Linked DNA regions of Homo sapiens. The protein of the gene in region 4 interacts with the protein of the main gene of each other region in a pairwise test. Each region holds a gene or a part of one and is shown on either strand. Other genes may lie near its edges.

What was found.
Region 1: the proteins of MRPS27 (region 4) and CFTR interact in binary tests that used the Homo sapiens proteins (3 or more experiments, as listed by UniProt).
Region 2: the proteins of MRPS27 (region 4) and SNRNP48 interact in a two-hybrid assay, tested with the Homo sapiens proteins (one large-scale study listed by BioGRID).
Region 3: the proteins of MRPS27 (region 4) and NECAB2 interact in binary tests that used the Homo sapiens proteins (3 or more experiments, as listed by UniProt).

Annotation. Positions count from the first base shown.
Region 1 is NC_000007.14:117,612,144-117,616,024, reverse strand, and holds part of CFTR (cystic fibrosis transmembrane conductance regulator), read right to left. Parts: intron 1,413-3,881; coding exon 1,312-1,412; intron 1-1,311. UniProt on the Homo sapiens protein: Epithelial ion channel that plays an important role in the regulation of epithelial ion and water transport and fluid homeostasis. Mediates the transport of chloride ions across the cell membrane.
Region 2 is NC_000006.12:7,588,602-7,592,997, reverse strand, and holds the start of SNRNP48 (U11/U12 small nuclear ribonucleoprotein 48 kDa protein), read right to left. Parts: upstream 2,801-4,396; 5' UTR 2,741-2,800; coding exon 2,585-2,740; intron 1-2,584. UniProt on the Homo sapiens protein: Likely involved in U12-type 5' splice site recognition.
Region 3 is NC_000016.10:83,970,863-83,974,743, reverse strand, and holds part of NECAB2 (N-terminal EF-hand calcium-binding protein 2), read right to left. Parts: intron 2,594-3,881; coding exon 2,569-2,593; intron 1-2,568. UniProt on the Homo sapiens protein: May act as a signaling scaffold protein that senses intracellular calcium.
Region 4 is NC_000005.10:72,232,453-72,237,518, forward strand, and holds part of MRPS27 (small ribosomal subunit protein mS27), read right to left. Parts: intron 1,746-5,066; coding exon 1,667-1,745; intron 107-1,666; coding exon 1-106. UniProt on the Homo sapiens protein: RNA-binding component of the mitochondrial small ribosomal subunit (mt-SSU) that plays a role in mitochondrial protein synthesis. Stimulates mitochondrial mRNA translation of subunit components of the mitochondrial electron transport chain.

The DNA of each region.
Region 1 (3,881 bases), on a different chromosome or scaffold from region 4:
GGTTTGGGAACATGAACACTGTCTCAGAGAACAAGGAAAGAAACTTAAGCAAAAAGTATAATTTTAAAAAGAGTATAATAATAGTGTTGCACAGTCATTCCTAACTTGGGTTTCTAAACCATCTACAAAAGCAGTGGTGAATGAATAATTTTAAATACAGTAGTACAAAAATACTTTAAAAATTCAATGATGAAGCTATCCAGACCAACCATATAGTCTGATTGAAAAATATGCATTTGATTTTTTAAACAAAAATGAGTAAATGTGCATCATTTCCTTTAATTTCTCAGTCCCGCTGCAATGGGATTTGTGCCCCTGATATGGTATTAGCACATAAGCATTACTATAATATTAATGGCTCTGCATTCTAGAAAACCAAAACAAGAGAAATAACACAACTAAAATGTGGTCTTTGTACACACTAATAAAGTATACAAATGTGTGGCAATATTTATCAAGCAGAAAGACAGAAGGCAATGATAAACACTTTAGGAATAAGAAAGGTGCTATCACTAAATAATGTGAAAAAAATTTAAATAATAGTATGAAAATGTTATGCTGCTAAATTTGAGAACCCAATATAAGGAAGGAGTTCTTAATCAAGATACCAAAAGCACAAAACATAAAGGAAAAGACAATAAATTGAACTTTATTAAACTTAAAAGCTTCTTTTCATCAAAAGACTCTATAAGCCAAGCCACTGACTGAGGGATTATGTTTGAAATGTATAGAGCTGATGATCAATCCATAATTCATAAATTCCTACAATTTAATTAAGGAAGAAAAAACTAGGTGACAAATGAGTAATCAACATGAATAAGAAATTAATGTAAGAGAACAGCAAAAGCCAATAATTATGTATGCAGCTTCCCTATATTTTTAGTAATCACTTCACATCTACCAGACACCAAGTGTTGTTGAAGATACATAGCTATGAGAATTCTTGTACTCTCTTGATGGGGATATATATCAGTACAACAGACTTGAGGACAATTTGGCACCACTCAGTTAAGCATGGGTGAATCCTATGACCCAGCAATACAACCCCTAGGTATTTCTCCTAGAAAATCCTGAATAAGGAAACAGGTGAAAGAATGCTCACTGCAGTATTAGATCTTCATAGTGGCTATCTATGAGAAGGAAAGAAGAGATAAGGATTTAATGACAGATACACAGTGACCCTCAATTTATCTGTAATGTTTTATTTCTTAAGCTCAATATACGGTATATAGTTCTTCCTCATGCTATTACTCATACTTTGTTACTTGTCTGAATTTTTTTCATAAAAGTTAAAAAGATGATAAGACTTACCAAGCTATCCACATCTATGCTGGAGTTTACAGCCCACTGCAATGTACTCATGATATTCATGGCTAAAGTCAGGATAATACCAACTCTTCCTTCTCCTTCTCCTATAGATGCACAAAAGACGTAAATGAACCTCATGTTATTTCTCTCTTCTGTGAACGACTTTATTCACACTTCTCCTAGGGCACATATCACATTAAATTTACATTTCAATTTTATGCTAATTTTAACAATTTTTAAATCTCAGTTCATCACAGCATCTACTAATAGAATAATGCTCTGCATATAGTAAGTATTCAACCAGGATTTTAAATCAAAGAGCGATTGAATATTAGGAAAGTGTTGCCCTTTTTAAAAAATGTTACTGGTATTGGAGGTGTTGTTGGTAATGGGTAGGTACCATATTTGTCTCTTCTACTATTATTCTATAAGTAATAACGGTAACATATATTAGAATGGGCAATGGGGAAAAGAGATCCTGTATCCAGATGAGCTGCTTTACAAAGAGACCAAAAGCAGGGGAAGAGTGTCCAAACAGCATCTGCAAGATGTTTAGGTGTGTTCTGTGCCTTTGCAAGGAGGACCTTTGCTAATTGCATGCTATTGGGAAGTAAGTGGACTTAGAATTTCACCGGACAGTCAGAAAACTAACAGTTCTGCCATTTGGAAAGAGAAAAGATTACCCTCTATGCAAAAAAAAAAAAAAAAAAAAAAAAAGATTACTGTACCTGGGAAGAACAACACTTAAGTGTTAAATTACAGTAATTTTTTTTTTAGGGCTAAAGAGGACAGCTAATTAAAATTCATGTGTTCAGTATTATGGCCATAGAAATTCTCTAAGAGGAATGTTCTTAAATTATTATAAAGTTAGACTATCAAGTCCCAATCAAGAGTTCTTACATCTGTAATGCATGATAAAATTGTCAAAAGATTCTACAATTGGGAGAAATAATTCATCTTATTATTAATTGAAATTTTTGTTTCTGCAATTCCTCTAACAGAAGGCATAATATACACAGCATATATCTGCATGTAGTATTAAATTATTTTCATATAGGCAAGATTTATCTAGACCCCAATATATTACTGTTCTGAAGGTTAAGCTGAGAAGATAAAATTTTAATAATAAGTCAGATAACATTTATTTAGTATTTACCATGGACCAGGCACTATACTAAGTGTTTTGGACAAATTATTACATTTACTATTCACCCCACACCTATGGAATAGGTAATATTATTGTGTCTATTTACACTTGAGGAAAATGAGGGGCTTAGATAGTTAATTAATGTTTGCAAGTTAACACAGCTGAAGACCAATTGAGCCAGGGATAATAATAGCTGGGTGGCCAACATCCACTCCGGCTGAGCATCTGATTTGATTGGTAAGTTCTGTACTATAATGATTGTTAAATGTTTTGATTATTGCCCCTAATAAATCAAGACTCAATCACACTCAACCATGTTATAGCATGTGTTATATTGGTTTGAATTAATTGTTAACAAATCTTCATTTATGTAATTCAGCCTTCTTTGATCTTATTTTCAAATAACTTAAAAGAATTTTTTAAAGTTGCTTAAAATTACAGTACTGATGAGGATTAGTACATTTGCCTGCCCATGTATATTCCTTTCATAGAGTCATTTCCCACTGCCCTAGCTGAGAGAACAACAAAGGTGGTGAACCCACTATCCTCATAGCAGCAGAGTAGACTGCAGTTGGACCCCTGAGCCAAAAGGAAGCTGTTTTCTGTTCTCTCCAGGACTTTGAGTTTGTACAGAGGAACTCTCCTGTAAATTCAGGAGGCCAGAATGGAGACACTACATAAAGTCAATGTGGCATAGCCCTGGTAGACCAGAAAAACCAGTCTTCAGAGAGAGAAAGGAATGAAGCAACCACAAAAAGGAATGGACCCAGGACAGATATAGACTCAAGAAGAAGAGCTGCAGCTGACTCTCTTGTGCCTGTTGCAGCTTCTTTAAGAGTCGAATGGCACCACCTTCTCGGTGTTCCATGAGGCCTTTCTGTAACTCCAGCAAATGCCTGCTTTCGGTTTGAGTAGAATTCTGTTCCTACAATCAAATGATCCTACAGATTTGGCATTGATTTGGCATTTGCTCTGCCAGTATTCACTGTCACATATAAGAAGTTATTTCAACACTTATCATAAATACTCAGAAATTCAAATTCTTAAATTAGAGAAACAAATTTACCTACATAGATTTTTATTTTACTTATTATGAAATACTTTGTTTTTCACTAAAGATCCTAAAATCAATCCAGAACATTTGTATTTGAAAAACATGGCACTTTCTTTTCTTCTTTTTCTTTTGAAAAATGTGACACTGTCTTTCTTTTCTGTGACAGTTTTTCTTTGTGTAAAACTCACAATTAGATAACAAATTTTATCTAGTAGAGATTTAAAAAAAACAAAACTTACCGACAAGAGGAACTCTGTGTGTGTGTGTGTGTGTGTGTGTGTAAATGCGGATGTTTCATTTCCCCTCTTTAGGAATCTATTAATTTTGAAGCTAGGACCCTTCACCAATATGAGTATGAAGAGGTGACATATT
Region 2 (4,396 bases), on a different chromosome or scaffold from region 4:
CAACCCTCAAATCTATTCCTTTTGTACTTTTCTATTTCAGTGAAAGGTCCCCCTTGCTCAAGCAAGAAACTACTTCTCCCTCATCACCCACGTCCAATCAATCACCTAGTCCTGCCAATTTAACTCCTAAATATTTCTGAAAATCCCTCAACATCCTCCATCCCCACTGCCACTTCCCCAACTCAGGGTATCATCAACTCTCTCCTGGAATACAACACCATCTCCTGACTACGCTCGCTCGCTCTCTCTCACTCTTGCTCTCTCTCTCTGCTTCCAGTCTTGCTGCCCTCCCCTTCAGTTTCCATCCTGTAGCTGGTTTGAATTCCATCTCTGCCACTTACTGGCTGCATGAAACTGGGTGAGGTACTTAATCTCTCTTTGCCTCATTTTCTATTATATAAAATAAAAATAATAGCAGGACCTCTCTCACAAAGTGATTGTGAAGATTTAAAAAAGTATACCAAAGTTTATACACATAAAGGAATTCAAATAGGGCCTGGTACATAGCAAGCATTCAATAAATGTATGCTATTATTTTATTAAAAGGTAAATGTGATTATAATATGCCCTGGCTTAAAATAATTCCATACCTCCCCACTGCCTTCATTAAAAAAAAAAAAAAAAATCTAGACTTTCTAATATGGCTGACAAGGACCTTTAAGATCTGACCTCTACCCACCATCACCATTCTACTCTAACTCTACACTCTATGCTCTAGCTATCCTTAACTACTTGAGGCTTCCCGATCTGGTCACTCCCTGTCTCTGAACTTCTACACATGCTGTTGATGCTTCTTCCCCGCACCCGCCAACCCCCTAGCCAATTCAACTCACTTTTATTTATCAGCTTAGAATTCACTTTGTCCAGGAAGCCTTTGCTGACCACCACTTTGTCCACCACCGCCTACAATAAACTGTACTATAGCAATTCCAACCCCACCCATCACAGACCCATGATAATATAATGGTTCAGTTATCCGTATTACCCCTCATCACCACCAGACAATAAGCTCTGTGAGGACTAGGAACTAGGTGACAACTAGGACTAGGAACTAGGTGACAACTAGGACTAGCTCTGTGAGGACTAGGAACTAGGTGACAACTAGGAACAGATGACAACTAGGACTGTTGTTCACTAAATTTCAGTACTAAAACACCGGCGGAAATCCTAACTGCCATTTACTAGCAGTGTATCCTTCGACAAATTATCACTTCTGTGTTCCTTTCCTCGTCTATAAAATGTGGCCAAAGATACCTACCTCATAGGGTTATTTTGAGTATTAAATGAAGTAATGTAAGTGGCAAACAAAGTGCTATTTAAACGTTAATACAAGGAATCCAATGTTACCGCAATGCTGAGTAAACAATGTATGGAAGGGTCTGGTAAGCCCCACTCAGTGGAATTCCCAGCTTCAAATACCCCTCTAAATGAATATTAAAGATTTTTTAATTTCCTCTGTGCTTTTAATACAATAAACAATGAATGGTATATACAGAAATCAAATATATTTTAAATGCCTCTGAGGAATCAGTCATGTAACTTAAACCCAGGAGAAATTATCACAGCATGGTAAACCCAGAAGTAATAGTAAAGATAATGAATTACCCCACATTGGAGCACTTCCCTTCCTCTCATTCCACCGAAAATACCCCACAAAAAAACAAAAATCACGAATGTTCACTCTAAATACACTTGCCTACATTTTTAAAAAAGCAATTCTAATGTCCACAGGAGTTGCCAGTTACCACCTCTTGGTGACAACCTTTAATAATCCTAGAATTGGTGCTGTCCCAGTCAGAAGTGTCCAATTTTAAGGCACAGAAAGGCGAACTGGCAAACTCCCAGCTCTCCTGACACCGAATCTGGTGCAACTGCGGAATCCGTATGACAGATGACAATGCAAACCGCCAATCCCTCTGCAGCGCTCTGAGACACGTTCACTTATTTTCTAAATAAATACCAAATCTGCCATTCCCTCCTCACTCAACACACCTTCCTGGATTTTGTTTGTTTGTTTTTTGAGACAGGGTCTTGCTCTGTCGCCCAGGCTGGAATGCAGTGGAGCGATCTCGGCTCACTGCAGCCTCGACCTCCTGGGCTCAAGCTATCCTTCCACCCCAGCCTCCCAAATAGCTGGGGCCACAGGCTCACACCACCACACCCGGCTAATTTTTGTACTTTTGGTAGAGAAGAGGTTTCACCATGTTGCCCAGGCTAGTCTGGAACTCCTGGGCTCAAGGGATCCTCCCGCCTTGGCCTCTCAAAGTGCTAGGATTACAGGCGTGCGCCACCGCGCCCGGCCCCCGGTTTTCTTTAAACTCGAAGTTGCGCGGGAGGAGCGCCGCACTGGAGGTCGATGTGGAGCCTTCGGGAGTTCCTCGCGCGCCCCAGCCCGGAACCCAGGGACGTCAGGGTTGCTCCAGGGCCCCCGGCGCCCCTCGGGTCCCAGGCGCCCATCGCGGCTCTGCACACGGACGAGGACTCCTCGCCCTTCCCTCCGCGGCTGCCAGTGCGGATCTCCCTTCTTCCAGAGAAGACCCCGGGCCGATAGTCCCCGAAAGGGCCCCGCGGCCGCGCTCCTCACCTCCGCCGCCTCCTCTTCCCCGGGATCCAGACTATCTAGGTCCCAGCCCAGGGACGCGGTCACCTCCTCCAACGTCCGGCAGCCGCTCTCCACGAACTCGTTCAGCTCCTCCTGCAGCCGCCGCCGCTCCTCCACAGGTGGAGGCTCGCCCTCCATAGCTGCAGCCCACCCGCCAAGAGGAAGCGGCCGAACTGCAGACCGCACGCGCAGGCCTCTGGGAGCTGTGGGCGGGGCCACAGTCGCCACGTGACTTGAACAGCCTATAGGGAAGAGTCCCGGGAAGGGCGGGACTGTTATTTTGAGAGGCGTTTTCCAATCTTTTCTCAGCTCTTGCGTGCATTTGCTCTGGCCTTTCCAGAAAGATATTCGCCCTCCTCGACTTCCTCAGAAAAAACGGCTTATAGCTACAGAAAAGTTTTAAAAATAGTACAATGAGCTTTCGTTTAGCCGTCCTTCAGCTCATTGTTAACATTTTGCCAGGTTTGATTTCTCTCCGTCTCTTCTCTCCACATTCACAGCCCCACCCAATGATTTTTGCTGAATTCTTTGAAAGTAAGTTGCAGATTTTTCACCCCCAAATATGTTAGCATGCATGTTCTAAGAATAAGAACATTTTCCTGTGTAACCGCAATACATGATCAAACCTAAGAAAATTAGTAAGTCCATAAAATCATTTATTATACAGTTCATATTCAAATTTCCCCATTGTCCCCAAAATTATTTCTATAGCAGTTTTATTTTTTCAACTCATAAGCTATAATTAGTTATTGTCTCTTTTAATCCAGATCAGCCTCCTTCACCCTCCTTTTTAAATTATTAAATCATTACATGTTGTGATGAGCCTAGGCCAGTTGTCTTGTAGAATCTCTCTCATTCTGGATTTGTCAGATTTTGTTTCCCTCATGATTAGATTCAGTTTGAGCACTTTTGCAATACTACCTAAGAGATGTTGCCAACTCACGGGGACGCATAACTCAGTTATATTAGTAATGCTAAATTTGATCACTTGGTAAAGGTGGTGGCTACATCTCTTCATTCTAATAGTACATTTTCCTCTTAGGAATTGGTAAGCAATCTGTGGATTATACCTTGAGTCCATAAGAATAACCTGTTCCCCAACTCCTTGATACAGTCCTTCACTGAATCTGTTGTTACATTAGGAGTTATAAGTGATTCCGCAATAGTATCATGCCTTTTATGTTTATTAACTGGCATTCTTTCCACACCTCCATTTTAGTGTTTGCTTCACTATGGGAATCAAGGTGTTTTTAAAGTTATTGATTTAAGGTTTTTTTTTAATTCAATATAATATACTCCTTTAACATCATAATTCTTGTTGATGCTCAAATTGTCCCAAATGTGGCCAGTGGAAGCCACATTAAGCCATCTGTGTCTTTCATGTATCCCTATTAGTCCTTGAATGCTTTCTTGCTTTGATAACACAAGCTTAACTTTGTACATTTCCTACCCAACACCTGGAATTAGCCCTTGTAGTTTCCCCAAATGGTTTCAACTCCTAGAATCTAACCCATTTTATATTACTTTTTAAAATTTTTTCAAGCCCAAGTGTCAAACCTTGGTTTCCTTTTGCACTTTGTTTACCCATGTGAAGGAACTGTGGGGGAATTTTTTGGTGAACAATTATTTCTAAAGGCAAATAGCACGGTTCTCACTTAAAAAAATAGTCATAAGACTATAAATAGGCAGCACCATAAAATACAGAAGTGGCTAGAAGCTGGTAAGAGAGGAGTATGAAGTTAATGTATTCATACTCTGCCTACAGTATCTTTTTTTTTTTTTTTTTGAGACGGA
Region 3 (3,881 bases), on a different chromosome or scaffold from region 4:
CATCCCCACTCCTACAAGCTTTTAAGCTGCTGTGTTGAATCAGAACCTGCCTGCACCGCTGCCCCCCGACCATGTGAAGAATATCACGTGCCATCTCCGAGCCTTGTTTTCGTCATCTGGAAGGAGGGTGGGGGTTGATACTTCTTGTCTCAGGAGGATCACAATGAAGATTAAAGGAAAAAGCACATTCAAGTCCTGGTGCATAACAGACGTTCAGTGACTGCTGGCAGCCTCCCCCAGACCGAATTCCCTGCTGAGCACAGAGGAATCAAACCCCTCTGGACAAGCCACACCTGCGGACTCCCATTTCCGAGGCATTTGAGGCAGAGCAGCGGGGACTTATTGATATCTTCAATGAGCGAAGCCAGGAGAGCAACTATCTATCCTCAGACAGCCCTCTGAGGTGGGTGCTGTAATTATTCCCATTTACAGATAAGGAAACTGAGACTGCAGAATTTGGTGACTTGCCTGAGGCCAGAGCCGGTACGCGGCTGAGCCAGGACTTGAGCCTAGGCAGTCAGGCTGGGGGACCTGGGAAGCTCTTGCTGGAACCCGCATCTCACACCCACATTCACCCTGGTGACAGCCCCTAACGGTCACATAGTGGTGGCTGGTAAGATGTAAGCCCCAAGGAGAAGGAACAGGCTCGGCCTTTGAGGAGGCTGCAGTAAGGAAACTGAGAGTCCCACAGCTGTGCTCAGGGGGTGGACACATGGCCTCTGATGGGGGGAGCCTGCAGCAAGGACAGAACCCCATCTGTGCCCGAGGGGGCCAGGCACCACCTGCCCAAGTGTATACACTGCAGTGGCTCCTGCAGAGCTGCACACTCAGGAAGCCACACACGCACACTAACTGCACACACACTCGGGATGCACAGCCATGGCTAGAGGCCCACGCTGGACACACGCATTCCCAACAGCCTCACGCTGCTGAGTCACCGAGATACGCACAGCCACGCTCTCACCAACAAACACGTCCACCAAGTCTACAGACATTTACCGAGGACCTACTGTGTGCTGGGTATCAGGCCCGGGACAAGGGACAAACCCAAATCCCTACCTCTCAACCTGCTGGAGGAGCCAGGCCAGCACACAGGCAATGACGCTGAGGGCTCCGGCGACCCCATCTCAGGGACAGCCCCCTGATTTCCCCTCCTCATCTCCAAGGCTTTTCAGGCCATGATGCTACGGCTGTTTTTCCAGAGCCACTTCATCTCCCTACGTCCCTCTTATTCCTCCTCTGCTCCGTATGGAATCACTGCTGATGGTCCTTCTTCCCCAGAGGCCTGGGAGTGGTCACTGTCACCCCCCAGGGATGCAGGAGGCCAGGGTGGGAGACTCGTTGGAACTGATTCCAGCCCAGGCCTGTGCACCTGCCCTCCCACCATGCCCAAGGCCTCCAACTCCACCCTGCAACCGCCCTGGGTGGGAGCCGTCAACAGGAACTCCCAGGGATGAGGCGGGTGCTGGAGACCCAGGCCAGAGCTGCCACCCTCAACTGCAGCTTGTGCAGGAGAGGAACCGGGGCCAGAGGCGTTGGGGACCAAGGGCCCTGGGGCAGGTCACAGGGTCTCTGTTGCGTGCTCTTCCCCTGCCACAGGCTTGGTACTTGATGTGCATTTTCTCAATGAATGAACATACCGGGAGCACGCGATTCTCTTTAAAAACATTTGTCACCCACACCGCCTCTCTGGCTTTTCCCCAAAACCCAGGGAAGGAGGCAGGGCAAGTGTTATTGCCCCACTTTACCCACGGGAAAACCAAGGCCCAGAGAGGGAATCTGTCTTGGTTCAAGTCCACGGTGAGTTGCGTTGCAACTGTAATAATGATTCTGGTATTTTTAAGAAGGTGCTTTTTGTCAGCCGAGGCTCAGCTGGGCCGCCTAAACGTGCTTATTCTCTCAAGGCCTGGGCTCCTTCTGCAAGTGAAGCCCCTCCAAGGAGTCGGGAGAAGTGGAGCGCTATGAATTCCGTGGCCACAACAAGGCGCTGCTCACATTTTTAAAGAGGCTGAGAGAGAAAGGGAAAAGGGCCCCGGTCTTCAGGAGAGCCTCCGTTTCCTTCATGCAGCTGGGCAACCCTGGGGCAAATTGCTTAACCTCTCTGGGCTGCTATGGTGTCAACAGAGGCAAGAGCACTGACTGCTCAGGTTGCTACGATGAAGAACTGCACCAAGGCTTGTGAAGGGCCTAGCGTGAGGCTGGCGGCTTCCTTTCAAGGAGGGTTTCTGGGCCCCAGCCCGGGCTCCTCTGGTCCAGCCCAGCTAGGAAAAGGCCTAAAGTACACCCAGCCCTTACCACGGCCAGTCATTGTTCTTGGCATCACAGACAAGACTCACTGAGCCCTTGAGTGGAGCTGTCCCTACTAAGTAGGCCCTACTAGGATTCCCGTTTTACAGACAGGGAGGTCAAGGCACAGAGCAGCAGCAGGATTTGGCCTTCTAACTTCAGACCCCTGCACTCCAAACCTTTAGGTTCAAGGTTGCGCTTGTCTCCTATCCCTGATCCCTTCCCCATGAAGCACGAGGACAGAAGGAGTGGGGCGGCCGTCGGCCTGGAAGGGAAACTCACCATTTTTGTCCGCACGGCGGAAAATCTGCAGAAAAGAGAGGCGGAGTCAGCCCTGGGCCAGGGAGAGGCAAGCGCTTCCTGCAGCCTCTGACCGGATACTGGGATCCTTCTCTTCTCCCAGGAGCAGCTTAGGGTCCTGGGAAGCTGAGCCCCCCTTCCCTCTCCCCCTCCCCGGGCTGGGATCCAGGGGGAACTGATGAGGGATGTTGCAGACAGAGGCCCTCCCCTCACCCACGTGGAAGCGGCTGCCAGTACCACCAGCCTGCTCCCAGCCACGCTGACACACACACGCAGGCCCACGGCCATCCCTGCAGGTGTAGGTCCACAGTCATCAGTCCACGTGGCTTCACCCACCGCCAAACGCTCAGCTGCACACAACCACACTCCGAATCAGTGTCCCAGGGAGCGCCACAACCTTTACCACTGCAGTCCTTCCAAAACCCCTGGTGTGTTTCCAGGGAGGTTGGGCAAAGTCCGACAGAGGTGTTTGCAAGGCCTGGTGACAATGCCAGCCACGGGCAGGACTGCGTTAATTTTGGGGTGCAGGAGGAGAAACAGGACGCCAAGAGTTCAGAAAAGCAGCCGCAGACGAAGTTCCGGCTGCATTAGGCAGGGATGGGTGGAGGGCAGCTCCAAGGCTGGCCTGAACCTACAAGACCAGGTGCCTCCTCGTTCTGCCTTTCCAGTGACATCTGAATCCGTGGGACAGAGCTGCTCCCCTTTCCTCAAGGTCTGGCTGGCAGGTGCTGCTTGCCAGGCTGAGGCTCGAAGGCAGCTTTCCGCCCCTTCCAACACCATCGCCTGGAGAGCTTTCAAAACCTCCTCAGCCCGGGCCACACCCCAGGGTGACTGAATCAGCTGCTGTGAGGCCCACTCTGATTTCAGCATTTTTAAAGCCTCCCAGGCCCAATGTTGACACCTGTGCGCTAAGACCTTGCTATTCACAGGAGCTGTTTGGGTCCTGCAGGAGCTTGTTTGCAATGCAGGATGTCCCACCTACTCTGCACTGTAGTGGAGTCAGACCTTTCACTGTAACCAGTTCCCACGGGGACTGATTCACCAGCACTATTTTTTTTTTTTTTGAGATGGGGTCTCGCTCTGTCACCCAGGCTGGAGTGCAGTGGCGCGATCTTGGCTCACTGCAACTTCTGCCTCCCGGGTTCAAGCAATTCTCCTGTATCAGCCTTCCGAGTAGCTGGGACTACAGACGCCCGCCATCACAACTGGCTAATTTTTGTATTTTTTAGTAGAGACGAGGTTTCACCTTGTTGGTCAAGCTGGTCTCGAACCCCTGACCTCAGGTGATCCACCCG
Region 4 (5,066 bases):
GTCTTCTTTGCCAGGCAATGAAATAAAACATAGAGGGAGAGAAGTTGGGTGGAAGGCACTTCAAAGGCTTCTTGCATCATGACCTCAAAAACCACAGATAAAGCATCTAGCAGAAGATGAAAGTAAAAAAGAGAGGAAATTAGTTGTAGGTAATATTACTAAATCTCTATTTAACTATAAACACTCTTAAAACGTGGGGCATGGTTTAAAAAAATGCAGAATTAAGAAGTAAAATATGCGGGCTTAGGCTCTGGCCCTAGTTCTTCCACAAACAAGGTTTTTCCTCAGCCTTTAGCTTCTATTTTACATACCAGAACGAACTAAATCAGGTGCTACTGCACCAACGTCCTGAAGGACATTAAATAAACCACTCATTTCTCTTGGCTCCCAGTATCATCGTCATAATGATAAAATACTATTTGCTTCACCTACTTCAAGAGAATTTTGGACAGTTCAACCAGAAAATGGCTCAAACTGTGATGCAAATTTAAGGCATCATGTCTACCAGCTAGAACAGCTAAGGCATAAAGGAGACACATATATTCTCAAGGTCACCCTGACAGGCAGAGCAGACAGGCTGGTCTGACTGCCCTATTCTCTGCTCTGGTACCTTCTCACTGTTAAGGCAGAAGAGGACAAAATGCTAAAGGAAACCCTAAATCTCAGGTGTTATTTCAAAGACAGCAAAATAATGACTATAAAAAGGACAATAAGGCTCAGTTTAAAATACTTGTTGGAAGGGAATGGGAAATGCTCGTTCATAAATTATAAGCCCCTGAGTATAACACGTAACATAAAATATTTGTTTGCACATTAATGCTGGTCATTAAAGCCTGGAGAGCAGGCTTTAAGCAATTTTTATTTTCCCTTGATATTCTACAACATAGATGGAGGCCAAGAAAATCAAGTCAAACAATTTCCTTTCTGTAGTTACTTGGTGGTAAAGCAGAGAATATTAACAATGGCTTAAAATATAGTGCCTGTTCATATCACAAGCACAACAAATGTTTTTTACTTACTGAATTATTTTTTTAACCAATTTTTACATATATTCATAACTATAAAATAGCACTGATTTGCAGCTGTTCCTACCCAGCTGGTTTTGCACATGTCATGGTTCTGAATGAGGCCACACGCATGGATTTCTATGTTCTTTTTGCAAATGGGGAAACTGAGATAGGCAGACCAGGTAGTCATCTAATAAGTCAGTAGAAAAATAAGAACCTGGAAGGGATTTTCTTTTACACAAACAAACAAGCCAGTAATATTTTAAAAGAGCATAGGCTAAAAATTCAGTTGAAAAAAAAAATCTCATTTCTGCCAACTGTTCATTACTGAATCCAAAATTATACTTGAAAAATAAATTTACTTTATCCTTTATTTATATTCTGCATTTCAGTCAGTTTGGGAAGTGAAATTAGATTGGCCTGTATAATTAACTTACTTTTCCTCCATAATCATTTATGTACTTTGATATTTTCTATCTTAAAATAAAAATAATGTTTTTAAAAATTTTGCATAAAAGATAATCATCAAAACTTTTCTGACTAAACGAGTAATGAAGAGATGTTATTAAGAAATAAAAAAGGGGAAGTTCCTACATTTGTACACCTCCCTTTGGGAGCTGGAAGCCCTATAAACACTGAATCTGGGGTTAGTTTCTTACCTTTGTAATTTTCTTTCTTTATGAAAGAATCCATCAGTAAATTGAATGTAAAGTTATCTGGAAAAATTCCATATTGAACCTATAATGAAAATGAACATAACAGGAAAAAAAGAGAAAATTATCTAATTTAGTCTGTAATATATGCCTATGTATTATTCAGAATAAAACTTGCCACCATTAGCTTTAAAATATTTGACTATCATTTTACAGCATCTGTGACAGTGAAACAGAAGCCATGACTCATGAGGTTTGGTAACAGGAACTGTTGGTCAGGGTGAGAAAGTTGTGAGTCTGATATAAGACAACTGATAATGTAAAAACTAAGGCTCCAATTCTAACACCTCATCATAGCTTAAAAAAAACATAAAAGAAAAAAGAAAAAAAGAAACCCACACAACCCCCCTAACTGGTTCAGTGACTCTTCTTATAAAGTATGAATAACAATACAAAAACAGACTCTCATGAGAAAGCAGACATTACACAGCATTTTCTGGTTCTTAGCCTGGCTTTTAAGGTCCCAAGAAATATGCCAAGAAATATTTGCTACTAAGTTTCTAGAATGTTGTGTCATACAACTGAATACTTGAGAATTCAGATTTCTTAAAATGTGGACCCTTTAGCACCTGCAGGATGTCGACTTTCTCAGAGTGTTTTTAACAATATAGATTCCTACGTCTCAGACCTATAGAACCAGAATCTGTGGGAATTGGGCACAAAACCCTGAATTTTTAGTGAGCTTCTTGTGATTTTCATGCATACTCATTTTACTACCAATGATCCTGATTGTGGCTGCATTTTTATTTGTTTCAAATTCTTCAGTAATGTTAACCACCATTCCCCACAGGGCTCCATTCTTCCCTCTTGGAACCAGTAGAAACACCTGAGGAATTTTTCCAAACTATATCCATATCCCCTTGAGAGATTTTGATACAGTCCTAACCCCCAACTGAATCACCACTGAGCTGACTCACTGTTTCCAGGTGTTATATATAGTAGCCTCAGGTGTGCCGAAATGGAAAAATGTCTAAAAACCACTGTTTTAAAGGTTGTAGCTCATGGCCAGTGTCTATATTTCTCAAAGCAGTCATCCAAATCAGTATTAATCCCTAGGGCAGGCTAAAAACCAAAATATTTTAGGATGACAAATCATTAAAGCTGAAAGGGATTTTAGAAATCAACTGGTCAGTGATTCTCAACCCAGGCTGCAAATGAGAATCAACTGAGAGCTTTAAAAAACAAACAAACAAACAAGCAAACCCAATGAGGGATGAATAGGCAGGGATGAGGGATGATACTACAATGGTGGATACATGTCATTATACATTTGTCCAAACCCATAGGACGTACAACATCAAGAGTGAACCCTAATGTAAACTAGGACCTTTGGGTGACAACGGTTTGTCAACGTAAGTTCATCAATTGTAATAAATGTACCACACTGGGGCAGGATGTTGATTATGAGGAAGGCTATGCATGTGTTGGGGCAGGGAGTACATAGAAAATCTATGTACTTTCCACTCAGTTTTGCTGTTGAAGGAAACAAAAATATTTCTCCCCAAAATAATTGAGGATGTTAAGTTAAAGATACTGAAAATGCAGGGGAAGACTCTGCCATAGCCTCCAATTGCCTGATGGCAGCACATAAATCCTTCCTTCCTAGAACAGCACTTGCTTCTGAGCCCAGAGAAGGCATCAGCAGGCACCAGAGGAATCTGAGAACAGATTTTACTATCTTCCCACATTTTCCCACCTTTTAAAGACTGGAACTTTTCCTTCGTCTTGTCACTGTATAGGATTTATGGCCCTTGGTTGAAATACTATTCAGTAAGGCCATAAGCCACTGCCTTGAGATAGAAATGCTTTTGAACTGAGGCCTTTCCTGTGTGATGAGTACAGCATGTGTTAATAAACTTCTGCTTGTTTTTCTTTTGTTAATCTGACTTTTGTTTTCAGCAGAGTGTCTCAACTAAGAACCTAAAAGGGAAAGAAACTAAATTATGTTTTCTCCCCTATACTGTGAACCCGAAACTGACAGAAAAATTTAAACTTATTAAAAAATTTTTTTAAATTCCAATGCCTGGGCCCTAGACAGATCAATTAAACTAGAATTTCAGGAGTAGAGGCAAACATCTACAATTTTTAAAAAGCTTCTTGGGTGACCCTAATGGGCAGCCAGAGTTGGAAATCACTGATTTACTACAACCCACTTGACTTAGAGTTGAAAAAACTAAGAGCTAGAAGAATACAGTTATTTGCCTAAAGTTACCAGCAACCAGGGGAGCCTGTGGGGCTACAGCCTGGATCTTCTGATTTCTAGTTTGATGTTCTTTCCACTAAAAGACTCAAGAAGCAGCAAAAATTCTAGACCCTCCTAGTTTTGCTATCATAGGAATCTTTGAGTGTAATCTGTGACATTACACTCTGAACTGAAGAAAACAAGATTTAATCCATTCCTTCCTCTGGGCCTTCCATTTCCTCCTCTTGAGATTCAAGGCTGTCATCTTGATTGGACTTATCCAGGGACCTAGCTCAATCTTTTACTCGCTTCCTTACCTGGTTCCTCCCTTAACATACCTTATACCCCAGGAAAAAGGCAATGTATTACTGTTCAGACTGAGTCTTTGTTTTCACCCAGATATACCTCTGGTAATACTGTTTCTGCCAGCCCATCTCCACGTGCAAGCATGCATCTTTTGGTGACCATCTTAAATGGTACCTCATGTCTCTTTTAATTATTTCCTTCCAATCAGATTCCCTCATCTTAATTCTCCAAGTTGTTTTTACTGTTTTTCTTTTCTTTTTTCCTTTTTTTTTTTTTTGAGACCAGGTCTCATTCTGTTGCCTAGGCTGTAGTGCAGTGGCATCATCACAGCTCATTGCAGTCTCCACCTCCTAGGCTCAGGTGATCCTCCTACTTGAGCCTCTAGAGTAGCTGGGACTACAGGTCTCGAACTCCTGGGCTCATGTGATTCTCCTGTCTTGGCATCCCAAAATGCTAGGATTACAGGCATGTGCCACGGTGCCTGGCCTTTACAAATATTCTTGTGTGGCACCTACATTTGCCTAATATTAGATTTATAAGTAATCCTGCTTATCTGCCTTATTAAACTGTAAACTTCCTGAGGGCAAGAACAGAATATTGCTCATTTTTGTATCCACTATCAATAACCAATCCAATGTCTCACAAACAAACTGTATATAATATATATTAAGTTGAACTGGTGCAACTGGAAATAAAACATTCTGCACAGAAGGGGACTCAAAAACAAAATCAGTATTCCTTTTCAGTGCTAACTTTCAGGGTCCAGTGACATTATAGACGTAATACCTTTTCATAAAAAGACTGTTAAAATATCTTTATAGTTCAAACTAGTGTTTAGCTTCAGACTCACAATAATAA